4 separate regions of the Homo sapiens genome follow, and all the other regions are linked to region 2. Evidence: fine-mapped expression QTL. A gene starts in region 2. Each other region holds a variant in brackets. All regions are shown on one strand. Distances are from middle to middle.

Region 1 (2,683 bases), 52 kb after region 2:
CCCAGCTACTCAGGAGGCTGACACAGGAGAATTGCTTGAACCAGGAGGCGGAGGCTGCAGTGAGCTGAGATTGTGCCACTGCACTCCAGCCTGGGCAACAGAACGAGACTCTGTCTCAAAAAAAAAAAAAAAGAAAAGAAAAAAAAAAAGAGCAACTTACTGCTTTGTGAGGTTGTGAGTGGCCACCACTGAAGGTCTTTGAGAAGAGGCCAGACGCCGCTGTAGCCAGGCCTGTCTTAAGAGGACTTGTGCTTCCAGGGACCCAGGCAGGATGATGGCGCAGCTCTTCCTACTCCAAGCCAATGCTGTCCTTCCCCTTTCCCATGAAATCAAGGTCAAGAGGCAAATAAGACTCCCTGCTCCACTCTACCCCCCAGAGAGAAATGATTCTCGCTCCTTTCAGATCCCCCAGGATCTGAGGGAGAAAGGATGGGAGGAGGGGCAGCAGCATTTCGCTGGAAAGGCAGCAGATGCTTTTCCAGCCCCGGTTCAGCTGGAAGGCTTGGAGGCTGGCCAGACCACTCTGGCGTCTCCTGAAGTGGGTCCCTGGAGACCGAAGAGGCTCAGTGGAGTCTGTCTGTTGTCAGCACTGCTGCCTGATCCCTGCAAGACAAATGGCACTTTCCTTCTTCAGAAGCATCATCTGCCTTCATTATTAGCAGTAATATTATTCCCAGTTATTATTCTTACCGGTGCCAGTTTTGCACATCTTTTTGTTGCTCTATTTGTGTCTCATTTACTTCTCAAATTGCCCCTGGGGGCAGGAATGAGGATGCAGAGAGATGCACGTTAATTACTGTCGCATTTTTCTGTGGAGAAAACTGAGGCCAGGGCTGAACGCTCACAGCTAAGGAGCTGTGATTCAGACCCAGTTCTGTCAGCTCTAGAGGCACCCTGCATCATGCCCACCAGGGTGATCCCCCTGGGATGGACCATCTCGGGATATGAGGCCTCGGAGGCTGGGGTTGAGATTTGGTCCTGAAGAGCTTATAGCCAGATTGCCACATTCAAGTGTAAGTCCAGGAAAGGGGCAGGCGGCAGTGCACAGGGATTTATCAGTTCCAGAACCTCACAGTGATAAGAGGCTTTAGAGAGCATCTAATCGAGACCTTTAATTTTTCGGGGAGAGCAGCTGAGGCCGTGTGGAAAATTAGTGGAGAGCTGACAAGTGTCTGGGCTCCTGGCCCAGGGGTCCGTGGTCCAGCACGTTGTGCGTTCAGTGGGAAGCAAAGGGCTTGCCCGGGATTACCTGCCCCAGCCCCGAGGTGGGTTGTGCTCCCTGCAGCTGCCATCGGCCCGCTTTGCTTCGTCCTGGCAGATGCCCAGTGATTGTCCCCGAGCAAGTGCCAGGGTTGGGCTGAGCTGCTATGACAGGGAGGCCCAGGGAGTTCTGCTCAGGGAGCCAAAGGGAACAGCCAGATCCTGAATGTTCTATGTTCACCTGCCCCAGCCCCACCCACCCTGGCCCACTCCACAGGCCCCTGACCATGGTCACTCACGGAGAGGGATGGAGGAGAAGGTGGTTGAACTGAGTACTGAGAACCCAGAGGACAGAGCCCACAGCTTCCAAGCAGGAAAAGGGACCTCTCTGAAAAATCTGGATAACCAGAATTATCACAGCACC[T/C]TCTCATTCCCAGCGCGTCCTTCTGAGCTCAGACCTTGAGCATTTACTGGGTTTCTTTTTGAGGAAGAGGGAAAGTGACAAAGGACAAAACAATGCAAATCTTCATGACTGAAGACGATCAAAGACTCCCTGGAGCGAGAAAACAGTTACTGCCAGAAGCAGAATGGAAGAGCCAAAAAGTACACAAAATGGACGCCATAAATTCTGAAATAAAAGTGTATGATGTGTTCTGAGTCACTGTAGAAGTCATGCATTTATTATCAAGATAGAAAAGAGCAGAGAATGACGTGGACATTGGTCCTCGGAGAGGCTGCGTAGGTGGTGCGGTCCCCGGGGGATTCTGGATGCTGGTCTTTTGACCGTGGCGGCAGCCTCGCGCCTGCCCGGATGGCTCCATCCAGACATTTGGCAAGGCTGTCATCTGCTCTTGGGTCCTTTTTCAAGCTGATTTCCTGCCTCCCCAAGAGGAGGTTTGAGCCCCATTCTGCCTTGGAAATAAATCCTGACAGATGTGCACAGCATATTTGCAGGGAATTTGCAGGCCTCGATTATTGGGGGAATCAGAGCCCATTCCACACCGAGCCCCATCCACGTGGCTGAGCAACACCCCTGTGTCCCCTGTATCTGTCTCACTGGCTGTCTTTCTCCCAGTTTCTTAAAGAACCACACCATTACTGCGTTTGCCGTTCGAAGCGTTGTCCCAACAATGCAGATGGTTCTGACAAGGGCTCTATATGCTGGCAGAAGGGAGCTTCCAACCTTTTAACTTGAGGAAAATGAATCTCTGAGAGGCTTGAGAGTGTTGCCAGGTGGAGCTTTTCAGGAGACAGGGGTCTTGAGCCCAGGACACCTAACTATCGAGTTTTCACTAGGAGACTTAGTGGTGGCTTTCATGAGGCCAGTCGTTCTCAAGGAAGGGCTGGGGGCCATCAGCAATGTCTGGAGACATTTTTGATTCTCACAGCTTGGTGGGGACTGCTATTGGTATCTCATGGGTGGAGGCCAGGGATGCCACCGAACATCCTACAATGCACAGGGCAGCCCCCCACAAATAAGAAT
Region 2 (2,653 bases):
AAGGGGAGAGAAGGAGAGAAGGAAGAGGAGGAAGAAAAGGAGGGAGAAAGGAAGGGAAGGAAAAGAAAAGAAAGGAAAGTTACAGGAAAGATAACACTGAAAGCCTTCTGTAGGTCAGTGAGGTTCTGGTCCCATTCCCATAGCCACAGTCCCTACTGGGCCCCCAGCTGCCGGGGGACCTTGAACAAACCCCTCCATCTCCCTGTGCCACAGCTTCCTTGCCTGTGACAAAGTCTGGGAGTCCCAGGCTGCCCCTCACAGAGGCTCGTGATGACCATGAGTGTAAAGTACCTGGAAGAGACATCACCCAAAGGGACCAGTCGTACTCACTGAGACTCCTTAGAGTACAGCTGGTTCCCTCCCAGTGAGCCCCCGGAGGGCAAAGCCTCCACGTGTCACCAAGTCTGTGGTGTCCACCACACACACACACACACACACACACACATACAGAGCAATGGGCCCCTGTGGGCGTCTCTTCTGTTCCCCTTACTTGAACTGTGGCACCTGCATGATTTTCGATACTGGTTTGAGCTGAGAGCCATGGAGTACCCGCTGTGCAACCTGAGCACCGTGCGGTCCTCGAAGACACCACTCACAGCCTCGTCTCTATTGGATGATTAGCCATGTTAGGGCTCTCATTTATTGAGGACACCGCGTGCTATATTCCCTATCTCATTTAATTATTCGGTTCTGTATTCTCTTTTCACAGATGAGGAAATCTAGGCTCAAAGACACTATCTTGCTCAAGCTGCACAACAAAGCAGGGCTAGGATTAAACCTCGTTCTGCCCAGATGCCGAGCCGGGAGTACACCGGACTCTGGGAGGAGCGTTGGCGTGGAAAGCCAGGTCACTCCGATCTTGGTCCTCAGGCTCGGGATAACGTGTCAGCCCCAAGAGAGCGCTGCCCACAGCCCCGGGTGGGTTGGGTTCAACTGCACGGGGCGGGGCGCCAACAGCTCAGGACTTGGGTTGCAGGCTGGTTCTTGCACCAACCAGCGGGGCGGCCTCGGGCCTCAGTTTCCCCATCCCGCCCACGAAGGGAGGCGATTGCGAGCGCTTGGGGTTTCTGACGGACCCCGCCCCGGGGGTGGGGCGGGGAGTGGTCACGTGGAGGGGCGCCCCGTCCGCCGAGCCCCGCCCCACCCCGCCCCGCCCGCCCCCGCGCTCGGGGCCCTCCGCCTAGTAGAGATCTGGAGCCAGAAGCCCAGAGACAGCCGAGTGCGCCGTGCGGTCTCCGGACGCTCGCTGCTCAGCCCGATCCCCGCCAACTGTGCAGGCGGCTGACCCGCAGCGGCAGCGGCAGCAGCGAGGACTCGAGCGCTGGCTGCAGCGACACCATGGATCTCTCCTTTATGGCCGCGCAGGTAACGGGGCGTCCCCCCCACGCGCCCCGGGCCGCCAAGTTTGGGGAGGTTCGGGGCCACGGTCTCGCCCTCCACGCTGGGGCTGGGCAGTGGCGCCCGCCCGCGATCCGCGTCCCGGTCCTTTGTCCCGAGCCGGACACCCCCACTTGGTGCACGCGTCGGGGGCGGCGATCGCGGCTCTCCCGGGGTGGGGCGGGCTGCGCGCCCCGCACCCCCGCGGCTCGAGCTGTTCCCGCCCGGGCCCCTCTCGTTGGCAGGAAGGCTGCGAGGAGCCTGGGCAGCCCGAGTCGCCCCCTTCTGCCCATCCCCCACTGCTGTCCCCCTTCTGGGGTCCCGGAGCCCTCCAAGGCCGGGCCAGCTCAGACCCGCGCGAACGTGGATGGGCACACAGTCTCGCCCTTCCCCACTCTGTTTTCCCGAGGCGCCAGTAATCTGTCTCTTGCCGGTGACCTCGGGCGCCCCCTTTGCCGCCGCCTGAGGAAGGCTCTGAGACCCGCTTTGTGACCGTGACCCGCCAAGCGTCGACGCGCCGCGGTCGTTTGTCCTGTTTTGCTTTGTGTAGAGTCTGATGGAGCCACCAGTGCCCAGCGCGGCCAGAACCCCCCCACCCCCCTCCCCGACACAAACAGGCTCCCAGTGGCCGGAAAAACAAATCTCTCACAGCTTGAATTTTCCTCCGGCAGAATGCCCTGGAGTTCTGAGCTTGGGTGATGATTCTATTTCTGTGCCTTAACTCTCTTGAGCCAGAACAAAGACAAATCCCGGATTTCTCCATCAGTCTGTGACCCTAGAGAAGACCCAGAGCTGGCTCCAGGGAAGGGCTGCGTTTGGCCTGGGAGAGTAAGTCCCAATCTACCAAAGCCACATCTTGCACCTTCTCTGGTTGTGTTGGTTGGTTATGGTGGGAGCAGAGAGGTCGGGAGGCCACCCAGGCTCCCTTCTGTCTCCAGGGTGTGTGGCAGGGACCCCATCTGCTGCTGTTTTCTTTTACAGGGAACGAAGTTTGAGGGGACACTTGCTTTTTCCCCAAGCTTCACCTGTAGTGGAAGCCTGTTTAAAAAGTGACAGCAAAATCCAGACTGTGTGTGGACAGCGAGTCTGCAAATGGAGGCTTAAAAGATGCGGAAGCCCCAAGTTAGTTCTGGGGGTCTAGATCCTGGCTCTCCGGCAGCCCCTTAAGTTTTCCATGATGCTAATTGCCCTTCTGAGTATCGCTGGCCCTTTTTTTTTTGCCTGATTTTACATCTCCTGTGCCTAAATCCATACTTATAAAAATTGTCATGTAAAC
Region 3 (2,657 bases), 29 kb before region 2:
AAATAAAAATAAATTTAAAAATCCTGGCAGGACTTTTTTGTAGAAATTGGCAAAGTAATTCTAAAATTTTTATGGAAATTTTAAAAAATAACTAGAATGGCAAAACAAATTGTAAGAAAAGTAGCAAAATTGGAAGACTCACACTACCAGATTTTCAGGCTTACTATAAAGCTGGCAGTCAAGAGAATCTGCTATTAGAAAAGGATTAACATCTAGATTAGTGGAACAGACTAGAATAGACCAATACACATGTGGTCATTTGGTTTTTGACAAAGTCCCAAAGGCAACTTAATGGAGAAATGATAGTTTTTCTCAACAAATTGTTCTTGGACAATTGAATATCCCTAGGCAAATAAATGGATATGCCTCAAGGCATGCATTACCCACTATAGAAATATTAACTCAAAATAGATCTCAGGCCTAAATGTAAAGCCTAAAACCACAATACTTTTGGGAAAAAAAAATAGGAGAAAATCTTTATAGCCTTAATTAGGTAAAGCTTTCTTAAATACAACACCAAAAACATGACCCATAAAAGAAAATATGATAAATAGGGCCTAATCAAAATTAAGAACTTCTGCCCTTTGAAAGACACTTTAAAAAATGGAAAGACCAGCCACAGACTGGGAGGAAATGTTTGACATTACATGTCAGGTAAAAGACTTGTTTCTAATGTATAAAGAACTTTTAAAACTCAATAAACAAACAACTTTTAAAATAGACAAGATATTTAAATGGGAACTTTTATCAAAGAAGATATACAGATAACAAATAAGTATATGAAAAGATGCTCAATGTCCTTAGTCATGAGGAAAATAGAATTTTGGACCAAAATGAGATAAAGCTACATACCAATTAACATAACTTTATAAAAAGCAAACCTGATGACAGGAAGCTTAGGTAAGGATGAGGTGCAACTGGAACTCTCATACCTTGCTGTTGGGAATGCAAATGGTACAGACACTTATACTTTGGCATTTTCTCACTGTATGAGGCCATTCTTGCATTGCTATAAAGAAATACCTGAGACTGGGTAATTTATAAAGATAAGAGGTTTAATTGGTTCACGGTTCTGCAGGCTTTACAGAAAGCATAGTGCTGGCATCTGCTCAGCTTCTAGGGAGGCTTCCGGAAACTTACAATCATGGCAGAAGGCAAAGGGTAATCAGGCATGTCACATGGTGAAAGAAACAGCAAGAAAGAGAGAATGGAGAGGGGGAGGTGCCACACACTTTTAAACGACCAGATCTCATGTGAACTCAGAGCAAGAGCTCACTTATCATCAAAGGGATGGCTGAAGCCATTCATGAAGGATCTGCCCCCATTATCCAAATATTTCCCACAAGGCCCCACCTCCAACATTGGGGATTACATTTCAATATGAGATTTCAGTGAGGATGGATACTCAAACTATCATTCTATCCCTGGCCCATAAAATCTCATGTCCTTCTCACATTGAACAACACAATTATACCTTCCCAATAATCCCCCAAAGTCCTAACTCATTCTGGCGTAAACTCAAAAGTCCAAAGTCTCATCTGAGACAAGGCAAGTCCCTTCCACCTATGAGCCTGTAAAATCAAAACAAGTTATTT[C/T]CTCCCAAGATATAATGGGGGTATAGGCATTTGGTAAACATTCTCATTCCAAAAGGGAGAAATCAGCCAAAGAAAGGGGCTACAGGCCCCACGCAAGTTCAAAACCCAACAGGGCAGTCATTAAATCTTAAAGCTCCAGAATAATCTCCTTTGACTCCATATCCTGCATCCAGGCACACTGGAGCAAGGAGTGGGCTCTTAGGAAGCTCTGTACCTGCTGCTTTTCCATGCTGAGATTGCAAGTTACTGGTGGTTCTACCATTTCCACTTCTGGAGAGCTGCGGCACCCTTCCCACAGCTCCACTGGGTGGTACCCCATTGGGGACTCTGTGTGGGGACTCCAACCCCACATTTCCCCTTGGCAATGCCCTAGCAGAGGTCTCTCTGGGGGCTCCACCCCTGCAGCAGACTTCTGCCTGGGTATGCAGGCTTTCTCATACAGCCTCTGAAATCTAGGCAGAAGCTGCCAAGTATTCTTCACTCTTGCACTCTGCACACCTGAAGGCTAAACACGACATAGAGGATGCCAAGGCAGCAGGCTGAGCTGTATCTGGGTCCCTTTGAGCCAAGGCTGGAGCTGGAGCAGTCCAGATGTGGGGAGGAGTGTCACAAGACTGCACAGGGCATAGAGGCCCTGGGCCTGGCCCTTAAAACCATTTAGTCCTTCTAGGCCTCAAGGCCTGTGATGGGAGGGGCTGCCTCTTAGATCTCTAAAATGTCTTTGAGGCCTTTTCCTCATTGTCTTGGATATTAGCACTTGGCTCCCTTTCAATTATGCAAATATCTCTAACACATGATTGATCCACAGTCTGTTTGAATTCCTCTACTGAAAAAGCTTTTTCTTTCTTTGCCACATGGCTAGGCTGAAAATTTTCCAAACTTTTATCCTCTGCTTCCTGTTTCCAACTGTTCCAAAATTCCAACTTTTAAGTCATTTCTTTCTTTGCACATCTGAACATAGGCTGTTAGAAGCAGCCAGGCTATATCTTGAGCACTGCTGTTTAGAAATCTCCTCCACCAGCTCCTCTAGGTTGTCACTCTTTAGTTCTAACTTTCAACAGA
Region 4 (2,683 bases), 57 kb after region 2:
GCAGTTTCTGGAGCAGGGAGGCAGCAAGAGAACTGGGAAGGGGCTCTTGATTTTGCCCCTCGAACCTGCTCCTCTGGCATCTTCCCTCGCTCGCTGGATGGCACCTCCGCCCTGCACCAGTGTGGCTGATAAGGTGGGGTCTCCCTCCCAATCGTGTGCCTTGCAAAGATGGCAGAGGCTTTCACATGGCCCAAAGGACTGCGTTCTCAAGACTGATAAGCATCATTCTGAAATAGCAAAAATGGCTAGCAGCAAGGTTTTTCAAGAAAAGGAGGCATCCCTGGTCCAATGCTGCTGAATGTGTCTCAAGAAGCTACAGCCAGTCCAGCCCAGGCCACAGCGTGTCCCTCACTTCCTGCCCCACCCTCCTTGCTAACATTTAATTGATTTAATTGAATTTTTGGTTTTACCAATCAGGATTGTAAACACATTCATCCTCATGCAATGTGCCTATTCCTAGTCAACCCTGGTATTGTAAGGGTATGGGCAGCTTTCCTGGAGCAGAATGTCCATCTGTAATGTGGGGCCTGTAAAGAAATAAAGGTTCAAACAACCACAGCTCTTCACTCTGTCCAGGAGTTGGTTATGCTGTGGGTAGTGGGGTGCTCCTCTCCCCTAGGGATGAGCCGGTCCCCCATTAGCTGTGTACTCTTGGAGGGGTAATGCCTCCTCTGGCTCACCCCTTTGTCCTCCCCAGTGCCCAGCCCAGGGATAACAGTGTCAGGCTTTCCATAAATGAACTAATGAGGGGGACAGGGATGAACACCGCAGCCTCCCTTCGGTGCCTGCTGGAATGGCCAAGCTCTGCATCCGCTCCCCAGAGCTGCCTGAGCCTTTAGGGTTGGAGGAGGGGGAGAGGAAGGGGAGGGATGGGTTTCTAGGGCTGAGATGGGCCCCTTAGTGATTCTGGTGGGGCTGCCTGTTTATTTAGCTGCCTGCTACCCATGGTCTCCAAAGCCTGCCCTCGCTGGGGATTTTCCATCTGGCTTCCAGTGACTCAGGCTCCCGCAGGGTGCTGGCCTTACCAGGCAGCAGAGATGGCCCCACGATTAATATTGATACACGCCAGCTGCTGAGGCCTCTTTCGCAAGCAAGACAAATAATATTAACTACCACAGCAACCGGC[C/A]TCTGAGCCGCACTGCCCTTAGGGTTTGCAAGCACTTTCCATTCCAGCTTTCCATCCTCTGAACAGGTGATCTGTGTCGGCCCCTCCCATGCCCCAAGCACAACCAGGCAGGGCACCTACTCTCTGTCTTGTGTGGTGGGGGGTGGGGGGAGGCAAAGGATCAGATGAAGACAATGGGTTGTAACTGCATGATAGTGAGAAGCTGAAATGCGCCGGGGCTGAGGGGCGCCTCCTAACCAGCCTAGCACTCCAGGCCAGAACGCCAGGGAGACAAGCCTCCAGTTTTTAGAAAACAAAACTGAAGTTCATCGACTTGTTCATTCAATAAGCAATGACTGAGCACCTGCTATGAGCCAGGCACTGTTCTAGACACTCAGGGTGTATAGTGAACAAAACAAAGCCCCACCCTGCTGATGGCAAAGGGAAGGTAGACAAGAAGCCAATAAAGAAATAAAGATCAAGCCTTACTTTCTGAAAAACCAAAAGAAAGAAACAGTGAAAGAATGCGCTATGGAATGGAGACAAATGTTGGGGGAAACAGAAAGTAAGTGTGGGGCTGGAGCGGGAGGGGCATGAGGTTTTGGAGAGGATGATCAAGGCACTCCTATCCCCAGGGGAGAGGTGGTGCCAGTGTCTCAGGACAGGGTGACAGTTCAGAGAGGTGACCTGACAACGTGCCTGGCCACCCCAAGCTTCTGGATAGAGAGAGTTTTGTACTCAGTTCTTACAGAGTATTGTCTTGTCCCAGAAGTGCTTTTGGAAATAGCATCATTCATTCATTCATTCATTCATTCATCCATTCCTTCACTGAGTCTCTACTCTGAGCTGGACAGGCAAGGATACACCCTGGCTCCTGCCCCCACGGTACTCATGGTCCAGGCTCGAAGTCCCTGTGTCATGATCATGGTTGGGGCAGCAGGACCCAGTTCTCCCCTGAGATTAAGTCTCAGAAGACACCTGGTTAACCAGCCAAAGTCTGCATGAGGGTGACACTGGCTGGAGAGTGCCGCCCACAGGGAATGCTCAGGTGGTGCCTTATACCTCGTTGGAGCCTTCTGAGTGGGAAAGGCACCTCCCTGTGTGGCTCCTGCAGGTGCTGCTGGGGCCTAGCACCCTAGCACCTATCTCAAGAAGTCAGACATGGCTGCTGGGGCAGGTGCATGCTGGTCTTGGACTCTCAGCATCTGTTGTCACTCCTTTCGGTAAAGCATGCTATTTCCTCTTGGGGAGCCACAATCCGCAGTCTGTGTACTCGATCCCTCCTGGGCTTGGTAGCCTGAATGCCCCATGGTCACAATGATATGTGCAGGGTGTGTGCCTGGCTCTGGCCTGGGCAGTGGTGACCTTGCAACCCCCTGATCCCAGTGGCTGGGCCAGGAGTGATTACACAACCAGACAGATGCAGGCAGCACAGATGTCCTGACTTGTAAGCGAGCACTGGGAAGCAGTCTGCACGGGGGACCCTGTCTCTCTGCTGGAAGGAAAGCCAGGAGGATGTGCGCCTGTCTTGGCAGCTGCCATCTCACCGCTGTGAGAGAAGCTGCTGAGAGTGGAGGT

Evidence for each region. PIP is the estimated chance that this variant, and not a neighbour inherited with it, causes the effect.
Region 1: its variant is fine-mapped to the expression of C14orf132 in fibroblasts (GTEx, PIP above 0.99).
Region 3: its variant is fine-mapped to the expression of C14orf132 in whole blood (INTERVAL, PIP above 0.99).
Region 4: its variant is fine-mapped to the expression of C14orf132 in sun-exposed skin (GTEx, PIP above 0.99).

What each region holds. Positions count from the first base shown.
Region 1 is chr14:96,090,274-96,092,956 of GRCh38, forward strand. It overlaps C14orf132 (chromosome 14 open reading frame 132), which reads left to right. Exons shown (of 2, transcript NM_001252507.3): 2 at 1-2,683. Among named protein-coding and RNA genes, the nearest start is that of C14orf132, 52 kb to the left of the region's middle. RefSeq lists an enhancer at 1,900-2,069. The variant T/C (reference allele first, on the strand shown) is at 1,625.
Region 2 is chr14:96,038,163-96,040,815 of GRCh38, forward strand. C14orf132 (chromosome 14 open reading frame 132) reads left to right here and starts at 1,200. Exons shown (of 2, transcript NM_001252507.3): 1 at 1,200-1,365. The coding sequence starts at 1,339. RefSeq lists silencers at 1,050-1,239, 1,260-1,309.
Region 3 is chr14:96,009,078-96,011,734 of GRCh38, forward strand. No RefSeq gene overlaps it. Among named protein-coding and RNA genes, the nearest start is that of C14orf132, 29 kb to the right of the region's middle. The variant C/T (reference allele first, on the strand shown) is at 1,596.
Region 4 is chr14:96,094,944-96,097,626 of GRCh38, forward strand. LOC124903374 (a long non-coding RNA gene) reads left to right here and starts at 879. Exons shown (of 2, transcript XR_007064321.1): 1 at 879-2,683. RefSeq lists enhancers at 1-66, 67-567, 2,017-2,518. The variant C/A (reference allele first, on the strand shown) is at 1,127.